Regions from separate parts of the Homo sapiens genome. Here region 2 is linked to region 1. Evidence: fine-mapped expression QTL. A gene starts in region 1. The other region holds a variant in brackets. All regions are shown on one strand. Distances are between the middles of the regions.

Region 1 (16,096 bases):
TGAGGCAGGAAAATCACTTGAACCCAGGAGGCAGAGGTTGCAGTGAGCTGAGATCGTGCCACTGCACTCCACCCTGGGCGACAGAGCAAGACTCTGTCTCCAAAAAGAGAGAAAGAGAGAGAAAAATCTAATCACACAAAGGAAAGGCAGGAGAGAGAGAGAGGAAGGAAGGGAGGAGGGAGGAAAAGAAATCCAATCACAGGAAGCCAGGAAAGGGAGTTCTAGGGTCTTTTTTTTTTTTTCTTTTTTCCTTATGCTTCTGTAGGCATTGAAGCCCTAGGGCAGGGACCCTCAACCCCTGGGCCACAGACTGGTACCAGTCAATGGCCTGTTAGGAATGGGGCTACACAGCAGGAGGTGAGCAGTGGGTGAGCAAATGAACCTTCATCTGTATTTACAGCCGCTCCCCATCACTCACATTACTGCCTAAGCTCCGCCTCCCATCAGATCAGTGGTGGCATTAGATTCTCATAGGAGTGTGAACCCTATTGTGAACTGTGCATGGGAGGGGTCTAGATTGCATGCTCTTTATGACAATCTAATGCCTGATGATCTGTTACTGTCTCACATCACCCCCAGGTGGGACCATCTAGTTGAAGGAAAACAAGCTCAGGGCTTGCACTGTTTCTTCAGTTATGGTGAGTTATATCATTATTTCGTTATATATTACAGTGTAATAATAATAGAAATAAAGCACACAATAAATGGAATGCCCTTGAATCATCCTGAAACCATTTCTTCTGCTCCCTGGTCCGTGGAAAAAACTGTCTTCCATGAAACTGGTCCCTGGTGCCAAAAAGGTTGGGGACTGCTGCTCTAGGGTTTTGGTTCAGGGTTTCCTGAATGTGGACTTCTGGGGCCACATCCTTCTTTGCTGTAAGGGATCCTGCGCATTGTAAGATGTTGAGTTGCAGCTGTGGCCTCCACCCACCAGATGCCAGTAGCACCTGGCACCGCCCAGCCCCAACCCAGCTGTGACAACCAAAAATGTCTCCAAACTTTACGAAATGTGCCCTGTAGGGCAAAAGCCCCCTTGAGTGAGAACTGCTGCCTTAGAGAAAGGGTTCTATCATCAAATGTAATGGAGGGGCCAGGTGCTGTGGCTCACGCCTGTAATCCCAACACTTTGGGAGGGCTGAGGTGGGCAGATCAACTGAGGTCAGGAGTTTGAGACCAGCCTGGCCAACATGATGAAACCCCATCTCTATTAAAAATACAAAAAAATTAGCTGGGCACGGTGGTGCACACCTGTAATCCCAGCTACTGGGGAGGCTGAGGCAGGAGAATCACTTGAACCCAGGAAGCGGAGGTTGCAGTGAGCCAAGATTGCATCACTGCACTCCAGCCTGGGAGAAAAAGCAAGACTGCTTAAAAAAAAAAAAAAAAAGTAAGGCAGGAAGACCACTGTCCTGCAGCAAATAGGCACTAGTGGTATACCTCATACAAAAGGAACTATCTCAGCCTCCATTCTGATCAATGGAGATGGGCGCCTTATAATTTAAAATAATTCTCAATTTAGCCCATTCATTCGTAGACTCCTTTGAGCATGTGGTAAAAGTTAAGGAATAGCTAACCCCCCAAATGCCGCAATTCCAGGGCTTACATAATATCTGAAATCCAAGGACTCCAGTTTGAAAACCCATGTCATAAAATTATTTACATAGTTTGGTACATATAATAATTTAAAAATAACAATATTCAATGTCTGAGAGGCAGTGGAGAAATCTGATCCCTAATGTACTGCAGGTGGTTCCATGAACAGGTACTGCTGTGTATTCCAGGACACAGCAAGACCCAGTGAGAGGCTTGGGTCCTGCTGGTAATTCTTCAATTTGGCTGTTTAGCCTAAAGAAGGCATCCAGAATGCTAATATGGCTTTACATACAAACATTCTGGCGACTTAAGGATTACAGTATCAAAACACTGAAAACAGCCCAGGCAGGGTGGCTCATGCCTGTAATCTCAGCACTTTGGGAGGCCAAGGTGGGTGGATCACTTGAGGTCAGGAGTTTCAGACCAGTCTGGCCAACATGGTAAAACCCCATCTCTACTAAAAATACACACACACACACACACACACACACACACACACACACAAAATTAGCCAGTCTTGATGGTGCATGCCTGAGGTCCCAGCTACTTGGGAGGCTGGGGCACGAGAATCGCTTGAAACCAGGGTCAGAGGTTGCAGTGAGCTGAGATTGTACCATTGCACTCCAGCCTGGGAGACAGAGTGAGACTTCATCTCAAAAAAAAAAAAGAAAAAAAAAACCACTGAAACAATCTAGAAAAAATCTAGCTGGGGGCTTAGCAAACTGATATTTAAGAGGGGTGCAATAGGATGCTGCTTACAATGAAATGGAAATTCCAATTACAGAGACTTGGAAACATGGAAGTTGTTTACAACAGTGTGATAAGAGGGACTAGGAAACACCACGGTGTTTTGTTTTCTTTTGTTATGTTTTGTTTTGTTTTGTTTTTTGAGACGGAGTTTCACTCTGTTGCCCAGGCTGGAGTGAAGTGGTGAGATCTTGGCTCACTGCAACCTCCGTCCCATGGGTTGAGGCAATTCTCCTGCCTCAGCCCCCGAGTAGCTGGGATTACAGGTGTGCGCCACCATGCCCAGTTAACTTTTGTATTTTTAGTAGAGATGGGGTTTTGCCATGTTGACCAGGCTGGTCTCAAATTCCTGACCTCAGGTGATCCACCCTCCTCGGCCTCCCAGAGTGCTAGGATTACAGGCATGAGCCACTGCGCCCGGCCAGTGGTGTGTGTCCTTTAACTGAAACTATGAAAAGAAAATGTATGTGCATGAACAAGAATGTGTGGAAAACATGAAAAAGTGAAAAGTATGAAAACTGGATTATCGGTGGATTTCTCCTTTTCTAAATTTCATTATTCTCTCATTTTTTTTTAAATAGGGCCTCACTCTGTTGCCCAGGCTGGAGTGCAGTGGTGCGATCATAGTTCACTGCAGCCTCAACCTCCCAGTCTCAAGCGATCCTCCTACCTCAGCCTCCCAAGTGGTTGTGAGAACAGGCGTGAACCACCATGCCTAGCTAATGGATAATTTTTGTATTTTTTTTTTTTGTAGAGACAGGATTTTACCATGTTTTCCAGGCTGGCCTTGAATTCCTGGGCTCCAGAGATCAACCCACCTCAGCCTCGCAAAGTGCTGGGATTACAGATGTGAGCATGGCACCCAGCCTCATTATTCATTTTTTACATCTCTTTTTTAAAAATGATTTTTCTCACAACACATGCAATTTCTCTTATTCCATCCCAATTCAATTCTTTTTTTTTTTTCTTTTCTTTTTTTTTTTTTTTTTGGTGAGACGGAGATTTACTCTTGTTGCCCAGGCTGGAGTGCAATGGTGCAATCTCGGCTCACAGCATCCTCCGCCTCCCAGGTTCAAGCGATTCTCCTGCCTCAGCCTCCCGAGTAGCTGGGATTACAGGCATGTGCCACCACGCCTGGCTAATTTTGTATTTTTAGTAGAGATGCGGTTTCACCATGTTGCCCAGGCTGATCTCGAACTCCTGACCTCAGGTGATCCACCCACCTCGGCCTTCCAAAGTGCTGGGATTACATGTGTGAGCCACCACGCCTGGCCCAATTCAATTCTTTATTTCCAAGGTCAGGTTTATGATTTTAAAAATCAACGGCTTACCTTGAGTTTGATTGTCCCTTTATCTAAAAATGAAAATAAAATGAAAAAAGTTAAATCAAGAGCTGTGTTGCCCTGCCTCCCTGAGCTGCAGCCTCACAAACCACAAACTTTCTTAACCCAAAGGGGTTTCATGTGGACAAACACACCCTGGGTCATGCTGGCCTGGACTGGGCCAGGCTAGGACTGGCAGAAGCCAGAGGTTTCCTCCAAGCTGGCACAAGCTGAAGGCCAGAGGGAATGGACAAAGCTGAGCTATTCAGGGCAAAGCTGGCCTGCCTAAGTACTTGATTTACTTCACCCCTGGCTCCTGTCCAAACTAAGCTGTGAGGGGAGTAATGGGAAAACACCAGGGGAGAGGAACAAGGAGAAGGGTGGAGAGAAAGAAGAGGGGACTGAGGTCCCCAGTGGACCTGACTGTTCTCCCATCACCTCTCTCTGCTACCCACACTAAATCATTTGTGCTACTGTACTAGGTTTCTGGCCTCCAGGACTCAATTAGGTATCTATTATTTTTGCCTCCCAGCAACCATTATCCCATTTCCTGCTAACAGATCCTCAATTTCCTTGGACAAGCTATCTGCCCAGCACACAACGCACGTGGCTCCCAAGCTCTCCATCCACCTTCCTGGGACTCTGAGCCAATCTGCATAGGCCTTCCCCCTGGTCACAGTGATTGGTTCAGGGCTGAGCACATGACCCAAAATGAACCAATCAGCATAGGCCTTCCCCTCTGGTCATAGTGATTGGCTCAGGGTTGAGCACATGAACCAAGATAGGCCAATCAGAGGGAATCCTGGGACTTTATCCAGCCATCTTGGGAGACTGGTGCTTCCCCTGATCTTAAGGAGAGACCTGGTTGCATCAAGAGGTAGGGGGAGAAGCTGGCCAGCAATACCAGTGGACTTTCTTTCTAGGTATGAGAGACCACAAACTGTTGCAGAAGCCAACTGGGTTGGGTTTCAGTTGGCTAGCCACCCAAGTCAGGAGTGCCTGGTTCTTCTAGGACTAGAAGGGCTTCTAGAAGGTTCTAGAAGCTTCCACATTTCCACCTTCTCTGGCCACACCTCCCTAAGAGACAAGTGCTGCTTCACTGGCCTTGGAGCCCCTGGCCTTCTCTGTGTCTCCTGTGGCTACATCATTCTCGGCATGAGGAATGAGTCTACCTCCCCTGGGAGATTACAGCTTTCTGAGCCAGGGATCTGCATTCACTATCTTGACCAGGAGGCTGAGGCTGTTGCTGTCTGCATTTGACCAAGGAGTGAAGGGGAGAGACTGGCTGAGGGCCTGAGCTGCACTTAGTAACAGGCCTGTGAGCCCAGGTCTGAGTCTAATGGTTCAGGTGTGCTGGAAACCCAACAAAAGGTCAGAGGGGGGTCATGTGATCTCCTTCAGGTCCCCTGTCCCACCTCTGGTCAAAGCTGACACAGGTGGGTGCCCGTGCTCTGCCCAGATCTGCACCCACAGAACCAGGGCTGCTGAGGACCCATGAGCTGAGCTGCCCATCCTGGGCTTTACTCTCTCTCCATCTGTAGAATGAGGAGAATGCAACCTGTCTTCCCTCCCTCCCTCCCATGCCCCTGGGGATTTAGGGCAGAAGGGAAGCAAAGCAACACCCACACTGCCCCAGCCCTGAAGGCCAGCAAGTGGCTCCACTTTGCAAAAGAAGGGGAAGTCCTGGTCTGGCACCCAAGGGACCTACCCAGGATGGCTCCCTGGCTCTGCACCACCGGCTCACCCTGGGCCACCAGCTGAGCCTGGACCGTGACTTCCCTTGGAGAGTTAAAGATGGTCACGCTGATGACTTCCTCCACGCCCGCGCGAAAAACAGAGGGAGCTGCAATCAAGTAACCCCTGCAGGAAAGGAGATCCGAGGTGAAGTTCTCACCCCAGACCCCTGGTCTCGCTGCCACCACAGCTAGGTCAGGGCTCTCCTCGCAGCAGACTCCTGCCTTTTGCTGACCACACCTGGCTGGCATTGATGCTCTAGGAGTCTGTGCCCCCCCATCAGTTCTTGAGTCCATGGATTGGCTCTTTCACCTGTGAAGTCCCCATGCTGGGTAAGAATCTGGCCTCACTGGATTTTTCAGCATTGCACAACCCCTCTTACTCTCTCTATTCCGGCCTCCAGCCTGTTGACTCAGCTACTTCCTTCTGCCCCAGGACCTTTTTTTTTTTTTCTTTTCCTGGAGACAGAGTGTTGCTCTGTCCCCCAGGCTGGAGTGCAGTGGCATGATCTCGGCTCACTACAACCTCCACCTCCCGGGTTCAAGGGATTCTCGTGCCTTAGCCTCCCAAGTAGCTGGGATTATAGGTGCCTGCCACCACGGCCGGCTAATTTTTGTCTTTTTAGTAGAGGCAGGGTTTTGCCATGTTGGCCAGGATGATCTCAAACTCCTGACCTCAAATGATCCACCCTCCTCAGCCTCCCAAAGTTCTGGGATTAGAGGTGTGATCCACCACGCCTGGCCCTTCTGGCCCAGGACCTTTGCACATGTCATGCCCACTGTCTGAAATACTCTCCTCCACAAGCCAGGTAACCGGCAGGATCCCACTTCATCCTCACGGTGCACCCCGTCCCCCACCACCGTGAGAAGTGCTGACATCAGCCCCATTTAGAAAGTCAGAAAGGAAACCCCAGAGAAGTCAAGTCACCAGCCGCAACAGTGACAGACCAGGATTCTAACTCAGGCGGTCAGACTCCAAAACCTGATAAAAAGAAGCAAAGGGCTTCTTTGCAACATTCATTTTAAGAACAAACCCTGAAAACAAACCATAGGGCCTCAAACAAAAAGAGCTCTGAAAACAATGGAATCAAAGCAGGCCTCTCTTTCCTAAAATCTTCTGATTGACTATGAAGTCACCTCTGGAAGGGAGGCATTACCCCCAGTTTCCCCATGGGAAGTTGATGCTTCAGAAGAATAGGAACATGCACCAGATCACACAGCCAGGCAGAAGAGGGCACTGAGGTGCCCTTAGGGGACCTGACCTGAGGGCCCAGGTCCTCCCCACCTGAGCTCCTGTCTCCCAGTATCTGCAGCCTTCCATGGAAAATTACAAAGGCCCTGTAACCTCATGAAATGCTTACAGTGTCCCCACAATCACCAAGAGCATTATAGCAAAGGCACCACAATTGCAACCATGTAGAATGATGGAAATCAGAAGAAAAGAGGGTAAAGGGGGAAACTGGACCATGCAATGAGATTAGGAGACATTTTCATTTCAATATTTTCTTTTTTTATTTTTATTTATTTATTTATTTATTTTTAATTGAGACTGAGTCTTGCTCTGTTGCCCAGGCTGGAGTGCAGTGGTGTGATCTCAGCTCACTGTACCCTCCACCTCCCAGGTTCAAGGGATTCTTCTGCCTCAGCCTCCAGAGTAGCTGGGACTACAGGCGTGCACCACCACACCCAGCTAATTTTTGTATTTTTGGTAGAGACTGGGTTCCACCATGTTGGCCAGGCTGGTCTTGACCTCCTGACCTCAAGTGATCTGCGCACCTTGGCCTCCCAAAGTGCTGGGATTACAGGCCCACTGCACCTGGCCTCAATAGTGTCTCTAGAACAACCCAACATCCACATGCAAAAAGATGAATTGAGAACATTACCTCACACCATGCAATTAGATTAACTCAAAGTTAATCTTAGTAACAGATCTAAATTGAAGAAGTAAAACTTGTAGAAACACTAGAAGAAAACAAAGGAGAAAGTCATTGCATGCTTAGATTAGGCAAAGATTTCTTGAGTAAGATACCAAAAATAAGATCCATAAAATAACTCACTGATAAACCAAACTTCATGAAAACATCATTACCAATTTTGCATCTCAAAAGACGCAGTGGGTTTGTGTTGTTTCATGCACACGAACAATGGGTTTGGGTTGTTTACTGCAGCCCTGGCCACAGTGTGCACTGACCCTGTGATCATAGTGTGCTACATCTGCCTTGAATAATTACCAGAGTTCAGTCCCCTGGGATCACACATGTGCTGTCCAACTCTAGGACCAACTGGAGTTTGCAAGACCCTGGGTATGTGCTGTGTATTACATAACTCCAGCACTGACCAGGACATGCAATTACCCTGTCCAGGTGTCCTGTCCAGCTCCAGCACTGGAATGTGGCATCCTTTAAAAGGGGAATACTCTTTCTGTCTGGCTCCCAGCTGATCCCTAGAGTTTAGACGGGCCTCACATATAGTACATGGTGAGTGTAGAAGAGAGAGTAAGGAATACGTGTTCATTTTGCTTGGTCACCTTTGAAACTCCTGACAATACGGGTTCAAGTCTTCATCCAACTGCCCAGAGAAACTGACATCACCAAATTAAGTTTCCCTGCCATTCAGAAGTTGCAGCTGTTTCCAGCTGTTGGGATGCTTGCCAGCCATTCACTGTCACACCTGACCCACCCCTAGCATCTGGGCCAACACTGCTTCTCATCCTGCTGGTCTCAGAAGGTCCCAGATTGGGGAAAGGGATGTCTGGGTCAGTGTAGACAGAATTGCTCTTACAACTGCAAACTGTGCTGCTTTCTGGGATCAGAGATTCCTCACACAAAAATCTCTCAGGTGACAGAAGTGGGCATCCAGAGCTATTCCTAAGACGAGATCCTTTGGGCTGGGTGAACCATGCCCCTGGCTTAGAGGCCAGCTAATCTGGAATCCCAGGTCGGTCATTTGGGGACATCTCTTCCCCAGTGTGTCTCTCAGCACAGGGATTCCATGTCACTTAACAGATGGTAAGATCACAGGGTGACTTTAGTCAGAGGAAAACGCCCTGGAGAACTGTTTAAAACTCTCTAACGGGCCAGGCACGGTGACTCACGCCTCTAATCCCAGCACTTTGGGAGGCGGAGGTGGGTGGATCACCTGAGGTCAGGAGTTCCAGAACAGCCTGGCTAACATGGAGAAACCCCATCTCTATTAAAAATACAAAAAATTAGCCGGGTGTGGTGGCACACGCCTGTAATCCCAGCTACTCAGGAGGCTGAGGCAGGAGAGTCATTTGAACCTGGGAGGCGGAGGTTGCAGTAAGCCAAGATCGTGCCATTGCACTCCAGCCTGGGCAACAAGAGTAAAACTCCATCTCAAAACAAAAACAAAAACAAACCCCAAAAACAACAAACAACAAACAAAAACCTCTGTATAAGGCAGGGTCTCTCATTGGAGCCAAGGTCTGTCATGTGGGGCCGCGTCATTCCTTGCAGTGGAAGCTGACCTGCACATCGAAAGCTGTTTACCAGCATTCCTGGCCTGCACCCACTTAATGCCAACACCAAATGCCTCTCCCTATTTGTGACAACCAAAAATACCTCCAGACATTTCCCAGCGGCCTCAGGGAGACAAAAATCCCCCCCAGGGCTGAGAACCACTATTCTAAGGGATGCCAGCTTTGAAAGAAGCATTAGGATGAAAATTTGTAGGGTTCCGATTTCACGAAGCCTAGGAGAGGGAAGTCTGGATGCTCAGAGCGCAGTAGACTGTCTTGCTTTTAAAACTGTGACCAGCAAGGACCAACTACTCACTGCAAATAACGACACCCACCTAGTCTCACTGCTTACCAGTTTTCTGGAAACTCCTAAACAAGGGCTGCTTGAACAAGCCGCCTTCTAAACGCCCAGCTGGACTAAAAGGCTGGTCTTGTGCAGACCAGGGCAGCCCCCCTGAACCCGCAGCCCTGCAGAGCTCACCCGAACTTGCCAGGTTTAGAAATATTCTCTGTGAAGCCAACTTAGCAGTACTCCCCAGCAGTTAGTTAATTCACCTTCTCCCCGCTGTCAACCCACCAGAAGCCTGCAAGCAAACCTCTAGAAAAATGTAGAAGCAAAACAAACACTTCCTCCTCCCTCACCACGCCCACCCACGGGAAAGTGCCCCTTCGCACTCTCCTCCCACTTCTCAGCCAAGACGCTCCTCTTACCTTCATACCTTGGACAACTGGAAATCGCCACCCATGATGACAGCCCGGGTCACACGAAGGGGGCGAGGTGGGGCGGGGGGAGCTGACCTCAGCACCTTTAGCTTTTGGGAGTCCCTGTACCTCCACAGAGCCACTTCGGAAACTTTAGGGCGCCCCCTCCTCAAGACGATTCGGGAACAAGAGGCCAGGTCCAGCCCAGCGCGGAGGCTGTGTGGCCTTGGGCAGGTCGCTGCAACACTCTGAGCCAGTACCCGCGACCCCCACCCCAGAAGGCGACCGACCTCCTCTGTCGCCGGAGGATACTCACGGGGCCTGAGGCTGCGCGGCGCGCACGCCGTCCCGCGCCGACAGCAGCAGGAGCAGGAGCGGGAGCAACGGCCAGAGCAGGGCGCCGCTCATTTTTCGGCTCCTGGGGGGCGCCGCGCCTGGGGAGGGGGCCGGGCCAGGGCTGGGCCAGGGCCAGGGTCCGAGCGCGGCCGTCCTCGCGCCGCCGCCGGGGGCCCTTTGTTCGCAGCCCCCGCGCAGTGCGCCCGGCGCCATGCGCCCCGCTCCGCGCCCGGCCAAGCTGGGGCAGCCCCGGGCCAGCCCCCTCCCCGGACCCGCCTCGTCTCCGGGACCGCCCCGCTCGCCCCGCTCGCCCCGCTCCTGGGCGCACCCTCCCGGGACGCCTGCTCCGCCCATCTCCGGACCCCGACCCGCCCCGATCCCTTCCGGGGATCGTCCCCTCACTTACTCACCGGACCCACCCGGGCCCTGCCCGATTCCTTCCGAACCCGCCTCCTCACCCCCTACCCGGATTCGCCCCCGGATGCCCCCCTCCCCACCAGCCCCGCCTCGGACCCGACCCCCCACCGCCCCCACTCTCCCTCTCCTCTCCACCCAGCGTCCACTCGGAACCTGTCCCTTCCCTGGCCTCTCCCTCCCTCCCTCCCCAGCCAGCCCCTTATGGCCCCCTCCCCGGGCCCGCCCCTCACCAGGGGCCCCTGGGTCTGGACGCCGCCTGCAACCCCGATCCCACAGGCGCCGCCGTGCCCTAAGCCCTGGCCTGTATCTAGTGCCCAGTGCAGTGCGTACAGCCCAAGGAGCAGAGGACCCTTTGGGGAAACAGTCTAGCCAGGGGTCGAACCTCCCAGACTCACATCTGCCCCAGGTCCCTATCTGTGCTCTCTGCTCCCCTCTCCCCCACCCCCACTGTCCACAAATCCCTTGGGCCCGTCCCCTCTCTCGCTGGGCCTCAGAGTCCCCCTTTCCCCTTCATACAGCAGGGGTGGATGGGCACCCCCTTTCTCTCCAAGAGCAGGGTGTCCCCTCCTGCCCCTCCCCGTGTGGCCACCTCAGTGATGGTCCTGCTGTCCTAGGTCCCACTGGCAGGCGGCACATCCTATACCATGTCCAAGTCCTGGACCCCCTCCTTCCAGTGTGGAACCCCCTTCCCCCAGCTACCAACTGCCCTTCTTCTAAAATTCCAGTGCTGACCACACCCCCTCCTGCCCGGAATCCTCGGGGCTCCCTGTTTATTTTACATTTTATTTTTATGTTTTGAGACCAGAGTTTTGCTCTGTTGCCCAGGCAGGAATTTAGTGGTGCAGTCACAGCTCACTGCAGCTTCAGACTCCTGGAGAGTAGCTGGGACTACAGGTGCAAGCCCGCACCCAGCTAATTTTTATATATTTTTTTTTAGAAACGGAGTCGCACTGTGTTGCCCAGGCTGGTCTTGAGCACTGGGCTCAAATGATCCTCCCTCCTCAGCCTCCCAAAGTGCTGGGATTACAGGTGTGAGCCACCACATCCAGCCAGGGCTTCCCGTTTATTGAGACCAAATCTAAACTCTGGCTTTGATGGCAGAGACCTCAGCCTAGTTCCTCCAACACCCTGTTCTTACTCCACTGCCTGCTTCTGCCTAATCTCTGTCTTCCTCTACCTGCCTCCTTTGCCAGTCCAACTCCTGATCCTTCCAGGAAACTCAAGGGAAGCTTCTCTTGCCCCCTCCCTGCCCCTAGGGATGTGGGTCCTCTGGGGGCTTCTCAGCCCTGTCAACAGCCTTTGGACCCAACACTGATCACCCAGGCAGCACCAAGCCCTGGGCTGGGCAATGAGGACCCTGGGACATACAGGACCTGCTGCCACTGAGCACACAACCCAGAGGGGACGTAACTGATGATGGTGTGTTGGTGTGTGTGTGTGCGTGCACGCGCGCAGGGGCCGGAGTAGATTGAGTAGCCGTCTCTCCTGCCTGGAGAAGAGGAGGAGCTGCCTGCCTCCAAGCTCAGACCAGGCCAACCCCAAACAGGCTGCTAAACTCACATGGAGGTGCAAAAATCTAGCACCAAGAAGCAGCATCTGATCTCACCCTCATCATCGAAGTTTGCCCCATGCCACCCCTCCGGGCCCCTCCAGGCCAACTCTGACTCCTACCTAAGCCAACCTCCACTCCTCAGCCTCCAGGCCAGCCTTTGAGCCCTCCGCCTCCCCCTTGACCATTGGGCTCTGGCCACATTTGCTCCTGAGATACATCAGACCCCCACCCACCACCACCATCTTGGGCCAAGGTGCCAGCTGTCCCCTCTGCCTGGGATGCACTTCCCCGTGGCATCACAAGACCGGCTGCTCTCCTCCACCTTCAGGGTTAGCCCGGAGGTGCCTTCCCTGCCTGCCTGGTTTGTAAGGTCTAAAATGTCAGTGCTGCCTTGGCATGGTTGAGCCACACAGGACCACGATGTCCTGACCGACCGTTCAGCTACTCTTGCCAAATATGCCCCCTGCCTGGCAAGAGAAGCTGCTCTCCACCTGGCTGTCTCACCAAGCAACCAGACCAGCTGCACCCCACCCATCAGCCACAGACTTCACTTCCCTAGCTGCTGAGAAGTTATTGAAACAAGCCATGCCCAGTCGTGGTGGCTCATGCCTGTAATCCCAGTACTTTGGGAGGCCGAGGCAGGTGGATCACCTGAGGCCAGGAGTTCAAGACCAGCCTGGCCAACATGGTGAAACCTCATCTCTACTAAAAATACAAAAATTAGCCAGGTGTGGTGGTGCACACCTGTAATCCCAGCTACTCGGGAGGCTGAGGCAGGTGAATCACTTGAACCCAGGAGGTGGAGTTTGCAGTGAGCCGAGATTGCGCCACTGCACTCCAGCCTGGGTGACAGAGTGAGACTCCGTCTCAAAAAAAAAAAAAAAAAAAAAGAAAGAAAGAAACCAATCACATCCTCCCAGGAGAACCAGGGGCTGCCTCACCCTCTTATTACTACAAAGCCTGCTTCCCACAGCCCCTGCTTGTTCATTGTGCTCCCGAGTGCAACCCCTGTGTGGCCTCACACAGTGTACAGGGTCCTCCTCCCGTCATTGTGTGAGAATAGGTGAGCACTAAACTGTAGATCTCACCCACCCAATGTCACATGTTGTATGTTTGGCCATCTCATACTCTTTTTTTTTTTTTTTTGAGACGGAGTCTTGCTCTGTCGCCCAGGCTGGAGTGCAGTGGTGCGATCTTGGCTCGCTGCAAGCTCCGCATCCCGAGTTAACACTTTTCTCCTGCCTCAGCCTCCCAAGTAGCTGGGACTACAGGCACCCGCCACCACGCCCGGATAATTTTTTGTATTTTTAGTAGAGACGGGGCTTCACCATGTTAGCCAGGATAGTCTTGATCTCCTGACCTCGTGATCCGCCCTCCTGGGCCTCCCAAAGTGCTGGGATTACAGGAGTGAGCCACCGCGCCCGGCCTATTTTTTTTTTTTTTAACGGAGTCTCACTCTGTCACACAGGCTGGAGTGCAATGGCGTGATCTCAGCTCACTGCAACCTATGCCTCCCGGGTTCAAGCGATTCTCCTGCCTCAGCCTCCCAAGTAGCTGGGACTATAGGCGCCTGCCACCATGCCTGGCTAATTTTTGTATTTTTAGTAGAGACAGGGTTTCACCATGTTGCCCAGGCTGTTCTCGAACTCCTGACCTCATGTGATCCACCTGCCTTAGCCTCCCAAAGTCCTGGGATTACAGGCATGAGCCACTGTGCCGGGCCCATCTCATACTATTTAGAGCAGCAGTCCCCAACCTTTTTGGCACAAGGGACAGGTTTCATGGAAGACATTTTTTCCATGGACAAGGGGCAAGGTGATGGGAGGGACAGTGATGGTTTTGGGATGATCAAGTGCGTGACATTTATTGTGCACTTTATTTCTATTATTGTTACATTGTAATATAATGAAATAATGATACAACTCACCATCGCGTAGAATCAGTGGAAGCCCTGAGCTGTTGTTTTCCTGCAGCCAGAGATCCTACCTGGGGGTGATGGGAGACAGTGGCAGATTATCAGGCATTAGATTCTCATAAGGAGCATGCAACATAGATCCCTCGCATGCACAGTTTGTAATAGGGTTTGGGCTTCTCTGAGAATCTAATGCTGCCGCTGATCTGACAGGAGGTGGAGCTCGGGCGATAATGTGAGCGATGGGGAGAGGCTGTAAATACAGATGAAGCTTTGCTTACTCATCCAATATCAGACCAGTGTCAGTCTGTGGCCCAGGGGTTGGGGACCCTTGATTTAGATCATGGGTGAATAGGAGCCAATGAGGACACTAGCATGGCCCGGTCATCCAGTTTGACTGCATGGTACACAAAACACAGAGCATGGTCTTATTATTCCATACACATCTGCTTCCTGTCTGTCTTCTTTGGGATGTGAGCCCCCCGTTTGCTGCTGGCCGCAGCCCCTGGCTCAAAGTGGGCACACCTCACACAGATTACTGCCTCATCAGCACACGGGAGAAGGCTCGCTGCTTAGAAGAGTCAGTTGATACTATTCCATGAATTATACAAGCCTGAGTTAACAAAGCCATGACTAAAAACTAAATTATACCGATTTGCAATGAAACACATTATACAGGTTGAGTAGCCAAAATGCATTATCGGCCGGGTGCAGTGGCTCACGCCTGTAATCCCAGCACTTTGGAAGGCCAAGGTGGGTGAATCACTTGAGGTCAGGAGTTCAAGACCAGCCTGACTAACATGGTGAAACCCCATCTCTACAAAATACAAAAATTAGCTGGGTGTCATGGCAGGCACCTGTAATCCCAGCTGCTTGGGAGGCTGAGGCATGAGAATCACTTGAACCCGGAAGGTGAAGGTTGCAGTGAGCCAAGAATGGGCCACTGCACTCCAGCTTGGGCAACAGAGCCAGACCCTGTCTCAAAAAGAAAAAAATGCCTAATCTAAAATGCACTTTCCAAAACGGTCAGTGCAAGAAATGTTCCAGATTTTTAATTTTTCAGATTTGGGGATATTTGCATTATACTTACTGGTAGAGTATCGTGTGTGTGTGTGTGTGTGTGTGTGTGTGTGTGTGTGTGTGTGTGTGTGTAGTCTGGCTCTGTTGCCTGGGCTGGAGTGCAATGGTGCGATCTTGACTCACTGCAACCTTCACCTCCTGGGTTCAAGCAATCCTCCCACCTCAGCCTCCCAAGTAGCTGGGACTACAGGCACATGCCACCACATCAAGCTAATTTTTGTATTTTTATAGAGACAGGGTTTCACCGTGTTGCCCAGCTGGTGTCAAACTTCTGAGCTGAAGTGATCCACCTGCCTCAGCCTCTCAAAGTGCTGGGATTACAGGCATGAGCCATCATGCCCAGAGTATCTTTAATCTGAAAATCTGAAATCTGAAATGTTTTGGTGAGTGTTTCCTTTGAGCGTCATGTTGGCGCTGAAAATTTTTAAATTTTGGAGCATTTGTGGAATTTGGATTTTCAGATTAGAGATGCTCAACGTGTATTAAAAATATGGCTGGGCGAGGTGGCTCAAGCCTGTAATCCCAGCACTTGGGGAGGCCAAAGAGGGCAGATCACTTGAGACCAGGAGTTCGAGACCAGTCTGACCAAGATAGTGAAACCCCATCTCTCCTAAAAATACAAGAAATTAGCCAGGGGTGGTGGTGCATGCCTGTAATCTCAACTACTTGGGAAGTTGAGGCAAGGGAATCACTTGAACCCAGGAGGCAGAAGTTGCAGTGAACTGAGATCATGCCACTGCACTCCAGTCCGAACGACAGAGTGAGACTGTCTCAAATAAAATAAATAAATAAATAAATAGCAAAGGCGCTGAAAGTACTCAAAACTCATCACTTCGTCTTCATTTTACTACATTTTACAATTCTCTGTACTCTTGAGGTTATGCATGGTGAAAATACTCCATAATAACACAGATCTCTTCCTAACTCTATGTTTAGTCACTTCACGCCAGTAGGTTGAAATTACCCATGGGCGGAGTACAGTCACTTCCACTTTATCACTTGTTTTGAAAGCACAAATGTGTTCCGACATGATGGATGCATTAGGAATGATTTGAGCATAAAATCAAATATTGTGTTCACTTATGTAAGATTTTTGTCTGCAAGAAACATTGGGTATGAATGCAGAAAACTGCACCTGGCTGACCCCAGCCACGTAGGAATACACAAAAACCACACCTGCACCCTCTCCAGCATCTCTGTGCTCCCTCAGTGCCTTGCTGTGTG
Region 2 (16,096 bases), 23 kb before region 1:
CAAACTGATCTGCAGAATCAACGCAATCCCCACTGGAATCCCAGCAGGCTTCTTTGTAGAAATTGACAAACTGCTCCTGAAATTCACAGGGCATCGCAACGAGTTCCAAATCGCAAAAACAATCCTTAAAGGGAACAAAAAAGAAGGACTCACAGGTCCAGGAGTGGTGGCGTGTGCCTGTGGTCCCAGCTACTCAAGAGGCTTCCAAGGCAGACATGGAAGCCGGATGCAGTGGCTCACACCTATAATCCCATGTGAGGCCAGGAGTTCCAGACCAGCCTGGGTAACATAGTGAGACCTCACTACAAAAAACTTTAAAATTTCAGGTGTGGTGGCATGCACCTATAGCCCCAACTATTCAGGAGGCTGAGGTGGGAGGATCACTTGAGTCTGGGACTTCAAGGCTGCAGAGAGCTATGATGGTGCCACTGCACTCCAGCCTGAGTGACTGAATGAGACCCTGTCTCTTAAGAGAAAAAAAGTTTTAAATGAAGTTGCATCCCTACCTCACACCATATACAAAAATAAACTCAAATGGATCACAGACCTAAATGTAACAGCTAAAGCTATAACATTCTTAGAAGAAACATAAGGGTAGACCTTCATGCCCTTGGATTTGGCAAAGAGGTCATGAAGTACAAATTACATGTGCTAGTCATTAGTCTGATGCCATACCAGGGTATGGACAGTTCAGTGTGACACTTAAACCTCACCCATTCAGACTGGTTGGAGAGCCAGCTAGAATGAGGCAGACATAGATGTTTTAAAAGGAGCACAGATTGTAGCCTCTGAAGAACCCTAAAACAGCCCTCAGCTGTGCAGGTATCTGGTGACGGAGTGAACCAGGATTCAGCCCACATGATCTTCATTAACCACTCCCTTTTTTTTTTTTTTTTTTTTTGAGAGACAGAGTCTTGCTCTGTTGCCCAGGCTGGAGTGAAGTGGCCCGATCATAGCTCACTGCTGCCTCTACCTCCTGGGCTCGCAATCCTCCTGCCTCATCCTCCTGATAGCTGGGACCACAGGTGTACAATACCATGCCTGGCTAATTTTAAAAAAAAATCTGTAGAGCTGGGGTCTTGCTCTATTGCCCAGGCTGGTCTCAAACTCCCAGTCTCAAGCAATCCTCCCACCTTGGTCTCCCAAAGTGTGAGCCACAAACGTCTGGCCTATTTCTTTTTATTTTTTGTAGAGACTGGATCTCACTATGTTGCCCAGGCTGGTCTCACACTTTTGGCCTCAAGTGGTCCTCTTGCCTTGGCCTCAAGTGGTCCTCTTGCCTCGGCCTCCCAAAGCACTGGGACTACAGGCATGAGCCACCATGCCCAGCCTAACCACTCCTTTCTTGAATGCAGATGGTAGGTATTTTCTGTCATATGTGAAACGCTCTTTACCAAATTTGTAGCCTTAAACCTCTTCTTCATACACATTCTGACCCCGCACGAGGTACTTTAGTTTCTACTCAAGCTGGGGCCCTCAAAGCCAGGGACACAGGAGATGTGTCTGTGCATGGGATAGAGGTGGCTCCAACACTGGCATGGAGAAGAGAAAGGAGGTTCCAAAGCAGAACAAGAGGGTCAGAACTCAGTGTTAGGACAGCCAGCCAGCATCACTCATGGACGGCAAAAGGGAACTGGGTGCAGACAGATGCAGGGCCAGGGATGTGGCCCACTTTCCCCTTGCATGACACTGGGCTCTGTTGGCCTTGCCCCACTCCTGCTGCTGCAATTGGGGTGAAGATGCCCCAGGTTTGTTTTTGTTTTTTGTTTTTTGTTTTTTTATTTGAGACGAAGTCTCACTCTGTCTCCCAGGCTGGAGTGCAGTGGTGTGATCTTGGCTCACTGCAACCTCCGCCTCCAGGTTCAAGCAATTATCGTGCCTCAGCCTCCTGAGTCACTGGCATTACAGGTGTCCACCATCATGTCTGGCTAATTTTTGTATTTTCAGTAGAGACAGTATTTCACCATGTTGGCCAGGTTGGTCTTGAAGTCCTGACCTCAGGTCATCCGCCCACCTGGGCCTCCCAAAGTGCTGGGATTATAGTCATGAGCCACCGTGCCCAGCCTACCCCAGTTTAACAGTTAAAATAAGAATAATGACTGGGTGTAGTGGCTCACATCTGCAATCCCAGCACTTTGGGGGTCTGAGGTAGGAGATCTGCTTGAGCCCAGGAGTTCAAGACCAGTCTGGCCAACACAGCAAGATCCCATCTCTACAAAAAATTAAAAAATTGACTAGGTGCGGTGGCTCCTGTTTGCAATCTCAGCACTCTGGGAGGCTGAGGCAGGTGGATCACCTGAGGTCAGGTGTTCAAGACCAGCCTGGCCAATGTGGTGAAACCCCGTCTCTACTAAAAATACAAAAATTAGTGGGGTATGGTGGGGCATGCCTGTAATCCCAGCTACTCTGGAGGCTGAGGCAGGAGAATCACTTGAACCCAGGAGGCAGAGGTTGCAATTAGTCGAGATCATGCCACTGCACTCCAGCCTGGGCGACAGAGCGAGACTCTTGTCTCAAAATAAATAAATAAATAAAAATTTAAAAATAAAAAAATTTGCTGGGCGTGGTGGCTCATGCCTGCAGTCCCAGCTACCCAGGATGCTGAGGCAGGCGGATTGCTTGAATCCAGGATGTCGAGGCTGTGGTGAGCTATGATCTCACCACTGCACTCCAGCCTGGGCGACAGAACAAAACCCTGTCTCTAAGAAGAAAACATATATAAGGATCATGACATCTGGACACCTCAAAATTTACCGTGCATAAGACTTGAGTGGTGGGTGGGAGGCAGAGGCTCGTTCAAAATGTCACATGGGTCTGCACCTGTCAGTCTCAGGAACAGAAGGTCTACCTTTGCAGGGCTCTCAACTTAGGTCCTCAGGGGATAAAATCAACCCAGTGAAGGGCCAGGAGTGATGGCTCACGCCTGTAACCCCAGCACTTTGGGAGGCCAAGGCGGGAAGTTCACTTGAGGCCAGGAGTTCGAGACCAGCCTGGCCAACATGGCGAAACCCCGTCTCTACTAAAAATACAAAAATTAACTGGGCTTGGTAGTATGTTCCTGTAATCCCAGCTACTTGGGAGGCTGAGGCAGGAGAATCACTTGAACCTGGGAGACGGAGGTTGCAGTGAGCCGAGATGGAGCCACTGCACTCCAGCCTGGGCGATGGAGTGTGACTATCTCTAAAAAAAAAAAAAAAAAAAAAGAACCCATTGAAGAAACAGGACTGCCTTAGAGCAGTTGCTTTAATAAATGGCTACTCAGATGTCTGTCCAAGTGGAATAGAGTAGATTGTCCTTTCCCGTGGAGGAAAATGTCCCCTGCCCCTCACCTGGAACACCAGCCCTCTCCACTCTCCGCAAAGGTTATGTCAGGGGATCCGTTTTCAGCTGAGTCACCACTGCAGAGCTAGTGGCTAGTGGTGGTGGTTTCACGGTGGTCCTTGGGCGGGAGGCAGCACAGTCACCCCCAAGTTACCTTCCCCACGTAGGCCAGGCCCGGCTTGAACTGCTTCCTCGTGTCCTTGGAGTACCGGATGTCCACCAGCTGCCTCTGCACGGGGGTGGAGTCATCGAACGCGACCTGCTGGCTCCCGTCCACACTGGTCACCATGGCCCAGATGCTGACCCTGCCCCGGAAGTGCTCAGGGACGTCCGCTGGGATCATGTCCCTCACGCAGATGTCGAAGTCCCGGGAGCCGAGGATCTGGAGGGAGGAAAAACACAGCCCGTGCTCACTCAGGGTTGGAGTGTCTTTGAGGGATGTCCCTGAAACACACACCTGAGGTGCAAGACTCTTCAGCTGCTTGGAGGGCCAGGGGTCACTTGGTGGCATACCCAATCTATGCCACGGGACCATGCAGAGGGTCCCTCACTGGATCTGGACAACATCCCAGGGAAGATGGATGTTGGCTCCATTGGGCAGAAGAGGAAAGAGGCTGGGTGCGGTGGCTCACGCCTGTAATCCCAGCACTTTGGGAGGCTGTGGCGGGCGGGTCACTTGAGGTCAGGAGTTCGATATCAGTCTAGCCAACATGGCGAAACCCCGCCTCTAGTAAAAATGTAAAAAAATAGCTGGGCGTGGTGACAGGCACCTGTAATCCCAGATACTTGGGAGGCTGAGGCATGAGAATCGCTTGAACCCAGGAGGCAGAGGTTGAGGTGAGCCTGAATTGTGCCACTGCACTCCAGCCTGGGTTAAGAAAAAAAAAAAGAGGAAAGAGATTCCCATGCTGACACAATCTCCCACAGCCCAGGCAACAGAGGGGGCAGCTGAACCTGCTCAGCCTCACTCTGGGGCACCAGAACTCCCTCATTCAATTCCTATCTCAGGATCCCACCCTGGGACTTGGCAAATAATCCTCATTCAGAAAGAGCTGTGGAGTAAATTACTCCGTAAATGAGAGAACTAAGTCAAAGACCATCAGCTGGTAGCCTCCCAGGAGAATGGCTGGGATTCTCCAAGGTGCCAGTGTCAGGAATGGGAAAGGTAGGGGTTTATGGTTTCCAATCCATGGAAGAGAAGCCTCAGAGAGCAGAGAGATGGGCTGGGTGTGATGGTGCACACCTGTAATCCCAGCACTTTGGAAGGCCAGCAGCGGCAGATCACTTGAGGTCAGGAGTTCAAGACCAGCCTGGCCAACATGGCAAAACCCTGTCTCTACTAAAAATACAAAAATTATCCCAACACGGTGGCACATGCCTGTAATCACAGCTACATGGGAGGCTGAGGCAGGAGAATTGCCTGAACCCAGGAGGCAGAGGCTGCAGTGATCCAAGATCGTGCCACTGCACTCCAGCCTGGGAGACAGAGAGAGACTCCATCTCAATAAATAAATTAATTAAATTAAATTAAATTAAAGATATCTCAGACATAAGAGAGGGGAGCCCATTGGAGCAGATGTGTCTCAGGTGGGAAAGGGACTGAGAAGGAGCTTTGGGTGGGAGGTGGGGAGGAGCCGGTGCTGAAAGGCTTAATGTCCGGGCACCTACAAAGGGATGGGAATCTCCAGGAAGGTGGGTGTCTGTTGTACTGTAGCCCACTCACAATGTAACATTATGCTGAAAGACCAAAAAAGGTTACAAAACTTTAAACAGGTGGGAATATAAAATAGTGCAGCCACATTGACCATTTGGCAGTTCCTCAAAAGGTCACACATAGTGTTACCCTCTGACCTAGCAATTCCGCTCCTAGGAAAGAACCCAAGAGAAACAAAAATGTAGGTCCACAGAAAAACTTGCACAGGGATGTTCATAGTAGCATGAGACATAATAGCCAAAAAGCAGAAACAACCCAAATGTCCACCAGCGGATGAAGGGATAAACACATTGTGGTCCATCTGTACCAGGGAATATGATGCAGCCATAAAAAAGGAATGAAGCATTGATCATGCTACGATGTAGACAAACATCAAAAACATGATGCTGAGTGAGAGAAGCCAGACACAAAAGGACATATAGCATATGATTCATTCACAGAAATGTCCAGAACAGGCAAATCTACAGAGACAGAAAACAGATAGTAGTTGCCAGAGACAGGAGGAGGGAAATGAGGATTCTCTGCAAAAGGACATGAAGGATGTATGGAAGGATGGTGGAACAATTCTAAAATTGGATAACAGCCATGGTTGCACAACTCTGCAACTATATGAAAACCATCAAGCTGTGGCCAGGCGCAGTGGCTCACGCCTGTAATCCCAGCACTTTGGGAGGCCGAGGCAGGTGGATCACGACGTCAGGAGATCGAGACCATCCTAGCTAATACAGTGAAACCCCGTCTCTACTAAAAATACAAAAAAAAAAATTAGCCGGGTGTTGTGGTGGGCACCTATAGTCCCAGCTACTGGGGAGGCTGAGGCAGGAGAATGGCATGAACCCAGGAGGCGGAGCTTGCAGTGAGCCGAGATCACGCCATTGCACTCCAGCCTGGGCAACAGAGCAAGACTCCATCTCCAAAAAAAAAAAAAAAGAAAAGAAAACCATCAAGCTGTACACTCTACATGGGTGAATTGTATGCTATGTGAATGATATCTCAATAAAATTGTTTATGTTTTTATTTTATTTTAGAGATGGGATCTCACTATGTTGCCCAGGCTGGCCTTGAACTCCTGAGCTCAAGAGATCTTCCTGCCTCTACCTTCCAAATATTAAGAGCTGGGACTCCAGGCAATAAAATTAGTGTTTATTAGTGTTTTTTTGTTTTTTGTTTGTTTTTTGAGATGGAGTCTCACTTTGTCGCCCAGGCCATGGTGGTCAGGCTGGTCTCGAATTCATGGCCTCAAGTGATCCGCCCGCCTTGGCCTCCCAAAGTGCTGGGATTACGGGTGTGAGCCACCATGCCCAGCCAAATTGGTGTTTTTTTAACTTTACTTACAATAACCTGTGAGGAAACACATCAAAATATCGATAGTGGTCATGTCCACCTATTGGAGAACAAGTTATCTTTATTTTCTTCCTTTTTATATTTTCTAAAGTCTCTATATTCAGCCTGCAGGAATTTTATCATCAGAAAAATCCCTGCCATATAACTGTTTTAGAAAGTAAAACAGCGGTGGCTCACACTTGTCATCCCAGCACTTTTGGGGGCAAAGGCGAGAGGATCGCTTGAGCCCAGGAGTTCAAGACAAGCCTGGGCAACATAGTGAGATCCTGTCTCTATTCAAAAACTTTTTAAAGGCAGTAAATAAAATAATAACAATAAGAGAAAGTAAAATAAAATGTGTGCTGGTGGAGGTGAACCTGGGGGTTGGGTCAGGGGGTAGAAGGGGTCCCTGTTTCTCACCTTGGTTGTTCTGAGGACAGGGCGTCCCACCTCGTGGCTGTAGTACCCTACACCATTAACAGTCATGTTGATCATTAAGGCACCAGCCACAGGTTTCCCAAAGGTATACCTGGAACAAAAGGATAAAGCATGCTCAATTTCACAGCCAAGATGGCAGGGAGGGCCCAGCCTCAGGAAGGCCAGGTTGACATAGTGTGGCCACTAGTACAGTGATGGATGCAGCTCCCTCCACACCCTGCATCCTGTCCTGACAGCCCTCCCTGCAGCCTGGAATCGGGACAGAAGATGCCAAGGCCCTCCGATCCTCTGCACCAAGCCTCCAGATGGACAGAAAAAGAGACCAAGGGTCAGAGAGGAACTCTGGAACTGAGAAGGCTAGGTTGGTGCCACCTCTGGAGCAGAGTAGTGCAGAGGCATGAGCGACTGAGAGGCACCTGAGCCTAAGCGCCCTATTAAGCTCGACTTTGAACCAAGGACCGAACTTCTCTGAGCCTGTTTCCTCACCCAGAGAATGGGACTCAAACTACCCTCTCAGGGGTGATAGTGAAACTTAAATGTCTGTATGTCACTCCTGATGCAGAGGGAATGCTGGTGGATGGGGAACAGGAGCAAAATGAGAGAGTGCAGGCTGGGCATGGTGGCTTATGCCTGTAATCCCAGCACTTTGGGAGGCCAAGGTGGGCAGATCACTTGAGGTCAGGAGTTCGAGACCAGCCTGGCCAACATGGTGAAACTCTGTCTCTACTAAAAATACAAAAATTAGTTGGGTGTGGTGGCACATGCTTGTGATCCCAGCTACTAGGAGAAGCTGAGGCAGGAGAATCAATTGAGCCCGGTAGGCAGAGGTTGCAGAGAGCTGAGACTGTCACTACACTCCAGCCTGGGCGACAGAGTAAGACTCCGTCTGAAAAAAAAAAAAAAAAAAAAAAAACAAGGATCAACCCCTCTCGGGTCAGCACACTGGCGGGGGTGCTGTTGGATGCCAGGGAGGCCTGCAGAGGGCGGGGAGCAGCCTTGGGGGAGAGGGGAACATGGTGGGGTTGGGAGGGTCACACCCTGGGGGGTAGGGCATTCTTTGGGGAGGGGAGACCCTTGGGGAGGGAAGAACTTAGAGTGGAAGGGCAGGACTTGAGGAAGGAATACACAGCGGGAGAGGGGCATGCTTTGGAGAGACAGGGGCGTGCTCATAGGGGTGAGGACACCAGCATGGAAACAAAGACAGGCAGTGGGTAGAGTGCAAGAGACTCATGTGGCAGGGAGACACCGAGTACTAGGGAGGGAGCGGGGCACAGGGCACCCTTGTGGGAGCAGGGAGGCCATGGAAGAAGTGTCTGCCTGTAGGAGGAGGGGGAAGCCCGGTTGTTGGGGGAGATGGAAGGGGAGGGCAGAGGAGGGGCCCAGGGGGAGGAAGATGCTCTAGGGAAAGGGGTACACTCCAGGGAGGGGGTGCCCCCAGGGGAGGGGCACGGGAAAGGATGATGCTCTAGCGGGTGGCCACATCCTGGGGAGGGGAACCCACAGGGGAGGAGCCCAGCAGGGAGGGAGATACTTTAGAGGGAGGAGGACACCCCAGGGAGGAGGCGCCCACAGGGGAGGAGCCTGGTGGGGAGGGAGATACTCTAGGGGGAGGGGCACCTCCTGAGGAGGGGGCGCCTACTGGAGAGAGTCACAGGAAGGGAGATGCACTAGGGGAGGGGCACACCCCAGGGAGGAGGGAACCAGGAAGGGAGGGGCACACCCATGTGGGAGGGAGGGAGGCAGCAGAGGAGGGGAACGACCTTGAGGGAGCAGCGTGATGGTTGGGGAAGGGGAAGGGCCCCCCCAGTGTGCCCCAGGGGTCCCTCTTTCTCACCTGGCCCGCACAGTGCCTGTCTCACAGGCGTCCAGGTCTTGGATATACCGGGGCGGGTCAATCAGAAGCTCAAACTTGGGCAACACTGAAGAAAGCAAGCAGAGAGGAGGGGCTGGCTTCTGTCCCTAAGGTGGCCTCAGGAGCCCTGACACCGGTGCAAGGTGTCTGAGGACCACAGCACCTGGCCACCACCGAGGTTGACACTGTACCCATCCACACCACTCTGCTGAGCAGCCCTGGGGATTTTGTGGGCTGCATCTATTTCTCATCTTTGGGGGACTAGGACCCCATTTTCCTCAAGGGGCCTCCCCTGTCACTTTTAGACCACGTGCTTAGAGTGTGGCGGATTCCAGCCTATCCCAGGGTGGACACGAGGCCAGGAGGCTCCTCCTAGCCCCTGTGTCTGTGCATGGGATAGAGGTGGCCCTGGGAGCCAACAAGGGGCATCCCCAGGGTGACTGCAACAGAGAGCTGATTTCTCCATTTGCTTCTGGACTCAGCCCTGGGAGTATCAAGCCATCTTGTCACCAGGGGCGGAGGTGACACCCTGG[A/G]GCAGCCGGTAAACCAGAAAGAATCGGGTCCTGAGAGAACTCTTGTAGGAGCCTAAGAATCTTTTCGTTCTTTCTTTTCTTTTCTTTTCTTTTCTTTTTTTTTTTGAGACAGATTGTCACTGTGTTTCCCAGGTTGGTGTGCAGTGGCACGATCTTGGCTCACTGCAACCTCCTCCTCCTGGTTCAAGCAATTCTCCTGCCTCAGCCTCCCAAGTAGCTGGGACTGCAGGCACATGCCACCACGCCTGGCTAATTTTTGTATTTTTAGTAGAGATGGGGTTTCACCATGTTGGCCAGCCTGGTCTTGAACTCCTGACCTCTAGTGATCTACCCACCTCAGCCTCCCAAAGTGCTGGGATTACAGACGTTAGCTGCCATGCCTGGCCACCTTTTTTTTTTTCTGAGACAGGGTCTCACTTTGTCACCCAAACTGGAGAATAGTGGTGCAATCACAGTTCACTGCAGCCTTGATCTCCTGGGCTCAAGCAATCCTCCCGCCTCAGCTTCCCGAGTAGCGGGGACTACAGGCACGTGCCACCATGTCCAGATAATTGTTTTAAAGTTTTATACAGACAGGGACTATGTTGTCCAGGCTGGTCTCAAACTCCTGGCCTCAAGCGATCCTCCAGCCTCAGCTTCCCAAAGTGTTGGGATTACAGGTGTGAGCCACCACCATGCCTGGCCTACAATACTTTTTTCTATAAAAGGCAAGAGTCCACTTTGGGAGGCTGAGGCGGAAGGATTGCTTGAGACCAGGAGTTCTAGACCAGCCTGGGCAACATGACGAAACCCTGTCTCTACTAATACAAAAATTAACCAGGTGTGGTGGCTCACACTTGTAGTCCCAGCAACTCAGGAGGCTGAGGAGGGAGGATCACTTGAACTTGGGAAGTCAAGGCTTCAGTGAGCCAAGATCGCACCACTGCACTCCAGCCTGGGTGATGGGTGTGAAACCCTGCCTCAAAAAAAAAAAAAAAGTAAGAGTGTAGGACCATCCCCTGAAACTATACCCAGCCATCATGAGCCCTCAGTAAACGGGGACTCATGTCATCCTCCACCTCTTCACTGCCATCTTCACCAGTTTCCTTTTCTTTTTCTTTTTTTTTTTGAGACAGAGTCTCGCCCTGTCGCCCAGGCTGGAGCGCAGTAGTGCGATCTTGGCTCACTGCAACCTCTGCCTCCCGGTTCAAGTGATACTCCTGCCTCAGCCTCCCAAGTAGCTGGGACCACAGGTGCGCGCCACCACGCCCGGCTAATTTTTGTATTTTTAGTAGACACGAGGTTTCGCCATGTTGGCCAGGCTGGTCTCAAACTCCTGACCTCAAGTGATCCGCCCACCTGGGCCTCCGAAAGTGCTGGGATTACAGGCGAGAGCCCTTGCACCCGGCCTTCTTCACCAGTTTCTAAGGTTTCTCCCAGATCTGAAATCCCAAGACCCTGAGATTCTCCAACTTACCATACTTCTGAACTTCAAAAGACTTGTTGTACGCGTGGCCTTGCATTTCAACAAAAATGAACCATTCTCCCAACACAGGCTGGTCGGACAAGGGGAAGCTCATGTTGGTGATGCCTGTGTGAAGAGAGAGGGCAAGGGCTTTTTCAGAGAGCCACAGACACGGTGAGGTACGGGAAGAGGGAGCCAGGACCCTGCTCCTTCTCCTTCCCTGAGCAGCCCCCCAGGAGAACTGGAGACCACAGAGAAGCTGGCGGGGTCTGTGCAGAGCAGCACCCTGTAGGATCAGGCCAGCGGAGCAGGTTTGACACCCCGGCGGGCTTCGAAGGGATGCAGGAAGGGACTGGACCCGCGGTTCCCGGGACAGCCTTGCAGCCAGGGCCAGGGGCAGGCAGTGAGCTGGACAAACGAGGGAAATGAGCCAGCCCGGCTCATTCACTCCATCCCCCGCCACCCGAGTCATTTCCAGCCTGGGCACTACTGACACCTGGGGCCACGTGGCTCTCTGGGGTGGAGGTGTCCTGTGAGCTGTAGGATGCTGAGCAGCACCCCTGGCCTCCACCCAACAGATGCCAGTAGTACCAATGCCCCCCACAATATAACGACCTAAAAAAGTCCCCCAGATACTGCCAATATCGCCCCTAGGGGGCAAAATCACCCCTGGGTGGAAATCCCAGAGAGAGAGAGAGACAGACAGAGAGAGAGAGAGAGAGAAACAGACAAGACAGACAGGGTCTCCTGCCAGGATAGGGTTTCTCAGCCTCAGCACTACTGACATTTAGGGCCAGATCATTCATTGTGGTGTGGGGGCATCCTGTAAACTGAGGGGTGCTGACCATCATCCCTGGCCTCCACTCACCAAAGGTCAGTAGTACCAATGCCCTCTACAATATAACAACCTAAAAAAGTCCCCCAGACATTGCCAATATCGCCCCTAGGGGGCAAAGTCACCCCTTGGTGGAAATCCCAGAGCACTGAGGGGTGCTGAGCATCTTCCCTGGCCTCCACTCACCAGATGCCAGTTGCACCCCTTGTCCTCCACAAAAGTCCTGACAAGCCAAAATGTCCCCAGACATTGCCATGTCCCCTGGGGGCAGAATCGCCTGTCCGACCCCCCACCCCTCCATGAGAACCACCCCCCAACTGAACTAGAGCACGCACACACTTTAGAACAGAGCACTCTCTCCCCAAACATCCCCCCAGAAACACCATCAGCCGCTGACATGGGAGCTGTCATTTGCTTTGCGCCTGTGCCTCTGAGCCCCGTCCGCAGCTGTTTTCACTGGGAGCCATGGAGGAGTTGGAAAGGGCACATTGACTCTAGGCAGTGCCAGGGGATCTTCCACTCCTGAGTGTGACACGCTCCACTCGTCCCCAATGATCATATGGGGAGGGCCATACAGGGAAGGGACAGGGAGAGTGGTTCCCCTGGGTCTCACGACAGAACCGAAAACCCATAGCGGCGCCCACGGCTTCTCTCAATCACATTGGAGTCAGAAGATGTGATGGCTAAAATGGCTTTTTCCCCCTCATATTCAGGCAAAGTGGGCCTTTGATGGTTACAGGACATTCGGGGATGTGTGTCCTGAGCACGTGTTTTGTAAGGGGTCTGTGGCCAACTTTGCCAAGTGCTCCCTGAGAGAGGGGCACAGTCACCCTGGTTGAGAATCATGGGTCTACACACATCCCAAAGGGTTTTTTTTTTATTTTTTTGAGACAGAGTCTTGCTCTTTTGCCCAGGCTGGAGTGCAGTGGCATGATCTCAGCTCATGCAACCTTCACTCCCGGGTTCAAGAGATTCTTGTGCCTCAGCTTCCTGAGTAGCTGGGACTTTAGGCACCCGCCACCATGTCCAGCTAATTTTGTATTTTTAGTAGAGACAGGGTTTCCCCATGTTGGCCAGGCTGGTCTTGAACTCCTGACCTCAGGTGATCTGCCCGCCTCAGCCTCCCAAAGTGCTGGCATTACAGGTGTGAGCCACCAAGCCAGGCCTCAAAGGGTTTTTTTAAACAGGAGGTTGACCTCTTCCCCAACTCTGTGCTCTTAAGATCAAGTCAGCCTAGGCAACATCTTGAGACCCTGTCTCTACCAAAAATTTAAAAAATTAGCTGGGCTTGGTGGCACGCGCCTGTGGTCCCACCTACTTGGGAGGCTGAGGTGGGAGGATCACTTGAACCCAAGAGGTAGAGGCTGCAGTGAGCTATGATCACACCACTGCACTCCAGCCTAGGTGACAGAATGAGAGAGAACCTGCCTCTTGAGAAAAAAAAAAAAAACTTTTTAAAAAAAGATCAAATCCATTCTCTTCCCTGGCTCTTGCCAGTGTCACCCCTGCTCTCAGCACTCAACATCTCTCTCCTGTCCCCCATCTCCAACCTCACTACCCTAGACATCCACAGCCCTTCCCATAAGTTGACTCCCTGCCTGGGAGATGCTTCCTGGCCCCCTTGCTTTGCCTGGCTGTCCCCCGTTCCTTCTTTGTTGCTGAAAAGGATCCTCCTTCAGGCAGCCTTCCAGGATTGCCTCTGCCACCCCGGGCTGGGATAGAGCCCCATTTGCCATCTCTGAGTTTTGAACTTCTCCTTCCTAGCACTCATCACAACTGACATTATCCAGGCTGTTTAGTTCATGTTTGCTTCCCCCATTGGGTTGAAAGCTCACCCCATGGCAGTATCTATGTGGCGCCCAACAAATAGCTGCTGATACAAAGACAGCAATCAAGGGAACGAGAGGGAGTAAAGAAGGCAGACAGGGAAGATGGAACAGAAGAAAAGAGGCTGAGGCCAGGCACGGTGGCTCATGCCTGTAATCCCAGCACTTTTCCGAGGCCGAGGCGGGCGGATCACCTGAGTTTGGGAGTTCAAGACCAGCCTGGCCAACATGGTGAAACCCTGTGTCTACTAAAAATACAAAAATTAGCCAGGCCTGGTGGCACGTGCCTGTAATCCCAGCTACTTGGGAAGCTGAGGCAGGAGAATGGCTTGAACCCGGGAGGCGGAGGTGGCAGTGAGCCGACATCGTGCCACTGCACTCCAGTCTGGGTGACAATAGCAAGACTGTATTTTAAAAAAAAAGAAGAAGAAGAAAAGAAAAAGGAGAAGGAGGAAGAAGAAGAAAGAAGAAGGAGGAAGGAGGAAGAAGAAGCAGGAGGAGAGGGGGAGGAGGAGGAGGAAAGAAGAAGGAAGATCGAAGAAGAAGGAGGAGGAGGAGGGAGAATAAGACGAAGAGAAGGAGAAGAAGAAAGAACAAGAAAGAAGGAAGATGAAGAAGAAGAAAAGAGGCTGAGACCCAAGGCAGGAGACAGAAGGAGGAAGGGTCACCAACAGACCCCCGTGATCCTGCCTGTGGCTCTACTGTTACCCCATTTCTGGACAGCCTGGGTGTGTGCATGGCCATCCCCAGACTCCCCACACCCTACCTATCCCCTGCCCTCTCCTGGGGCATCACACCCCTCACAGGCAAAGCAAAGTGGGGTATGTCAATTACACAGTCTTCCTAGTCATAGGAAAAGAAAAGAAAAAAGCAAAGTCCTTTCTGACTTCTAGCTGGAAAAGAAATATCTCATGCAATGGGGATGATAAAATCTGCAACCTATAGCAGGAAGAAGCTGGGAGCAGGCCGGGCGTGGTGGCTCACGCCTGTAATCCCACCACTTTGGGAGGACAAGGCGGGTGGATCACCTGAGAGGTCAGGAGTTGGAGACCAGCCTGGCCAAATGGTGAAACCCCATCTCTACTAAAAATACAAAAATAAGCCAGGCGTGGTGCCATGCACCTGTAATCCCAGCTACTCGGTAGGCTGAGGCAGGAGACGCTCTTGAACCCGGGAGGCAGAGGTTGCAGTGAGCTGAGATTGTGCCACTGCACTCCAGCCTGGGTGACAGAGAGAGACTCTGTCTCAAAAAATAAAAAACAAGGTGAGAGCAGGTGCCCCAGTATTCCACAAAGGTCTTGAGTTCTGAGCAGGAGCCCCGCCTGAGTCCTGGGCATAGAGAAACGTGGGCAGAGGGTCCAAATCCACAGGGAAGGTGCTGTGGGCTGGGCTGAGGCTCCCAGATCCAAACCCATGGCATTGTCACCTCCCAGGTGGGTACCTGCCCTCCGCTCCTCCTTGGTCCCCTCCAGCTGGAGCAGCAGTGGGGGTACATTAGCGGTGGGCCCTGGACAGAGCATATTCTGTTTTCCTGGAAGGTTTATCACATCTGCAGCCCCCAAGCCGCAGAGGAAGAAACTTACCGCAGCAGAACGGCTTTAAGTGTCTCCACTCTATCATCCGAGAGCCTCGGGGGTCCTGTTGGTGGTGGAGGGGGACAGACACACGGAGTGAACTCAGGCTAGCCTAGCATGTGCCCAATGTAAGGATTTTCCCAGTCCTCTCTCTTGGGCATGTCAACCATGCAGCGAAGGTCCCAAGATTAATCATTAACCCCGGGGCAAAAAAAAAGCTCTGGATAGAGAAGGATTTGAAAAGCAGAAGGGGATGGGCTGGGCCTACCTCCTCATTTAGGGAGCCGTGTACAAACCTAGAAATGGACGTGGCTGGGTGTGGTGGCTCACACCTGTAATCCCAGCAGTTTGGGAGGCCAAGGTGGGCGGATCACCTGAGGTCAGGAGTTTGAGACCAGCCTGGCCAACATGGTGAAACCCCCATTTCCACTAAAAAAGATACAAAAAAAAATTAGCTGGGTGTGGTGCCATACGCCTGTAGTCTCAGCTACTCGGGAGGCTGAGGAAGGAGAATCGCTTGAACCCGGGAGGCAGAGGTTGCAGTGAGCCAAGATCAGCACCACTGCAATCCAGCCTGGGTGATAGAGCGAGACTCCATTTCAAAAAAAAAAAGGAAACGGACAGACACACACACAGCCCATCCCAGGGCGGACCCAGGGACCAGGATAGAAGAGGCCAGGTCCCAGCCTTGTAAGGCACAGCGGCTCAACCCAGAAGGCAGACAGTGAGCGAAGACAGACCAGATCTTGCAGAAGGTGGGCTACCCGGGCCCCAAGTCCAAGCCGAGGAAGGACAGAGGCCACTCACCAGGATGTAGGCTTCCAGCTGTAATGAAGACACAGATGCAGTGAGCAAATCTTCCAGCAAACCCCAAACCCTTTCAACATGCTCATGCATGGCCTCGGTCCCCGGGACAGGCAGTCGCTGTTATGGGTTAAACAGTGTCCCCCTAGATTACATCCGTTGAATCCTAACCCCAAGTAGGGTCTTTAGAAAGACTCATTACAGGTGGCTCATGCCTGTAATCCCAGCACTTTGGGAGGCCAAGGCGGGTGGATCACGAGGTCAGGAGATTGAGACCACCCTGGCTAACACCGTGAAATCCCGTCTCTACAAAAAATAGAAAAAATTAGCCGGGCATGGTCGTGGGTGCCTGTAGTCCCAGCTACTCGGGAGGCTGAGGCAGGAGAATGGCATGAACCCAGGAGGCAGAGCTTGCAGTGAGCGGAGATTGCG

The links.
Region 2: its variant is fine-mapped to the expression of CPAMD8 in hippocampus (GTEx, PIP 0.94).

The regions. Positions count from the first base shown.
Region 1 is chr19:17,016,660-17,032,755 of GRCh38, forward strand. It overlaps CPAMD8 (C3 and PZP like alpha-2-macroglobulin domain containing 8), which reads right to left and starts at 10,151. Exons shown (of 42, transcript NM_015692.5): 1 at 9,892-10,151; 2 at 5,371-5,522; 3 at 3,672-3,694. The coding sequence starts at 9,983. RefSeq lists an enhancer at 10,323-11,231.
Region 2 is chr19:16,993,636-17,009,731 of GRCh38, forward strand. It overlaps CPAMD8 (C3 and PZP like alpha-2-macroglobulin domain containing 8), which reads right to left. Exons shown (of 42, transcript NM_015692.5): 6 at 15,668-15,685; 7 at 14,870-14,924; 8 at 10,638-10,751; 9 at 8,631-8,715; 10 at 6,779-6,887; 11 at 3,476-3,703. Among named protein-coding and RNA genes, the nearest start is that of CPAMD8, 25 kb to the right of the region's middle. The variant A/G (reference allele first, on the strand shown) is at 9,182.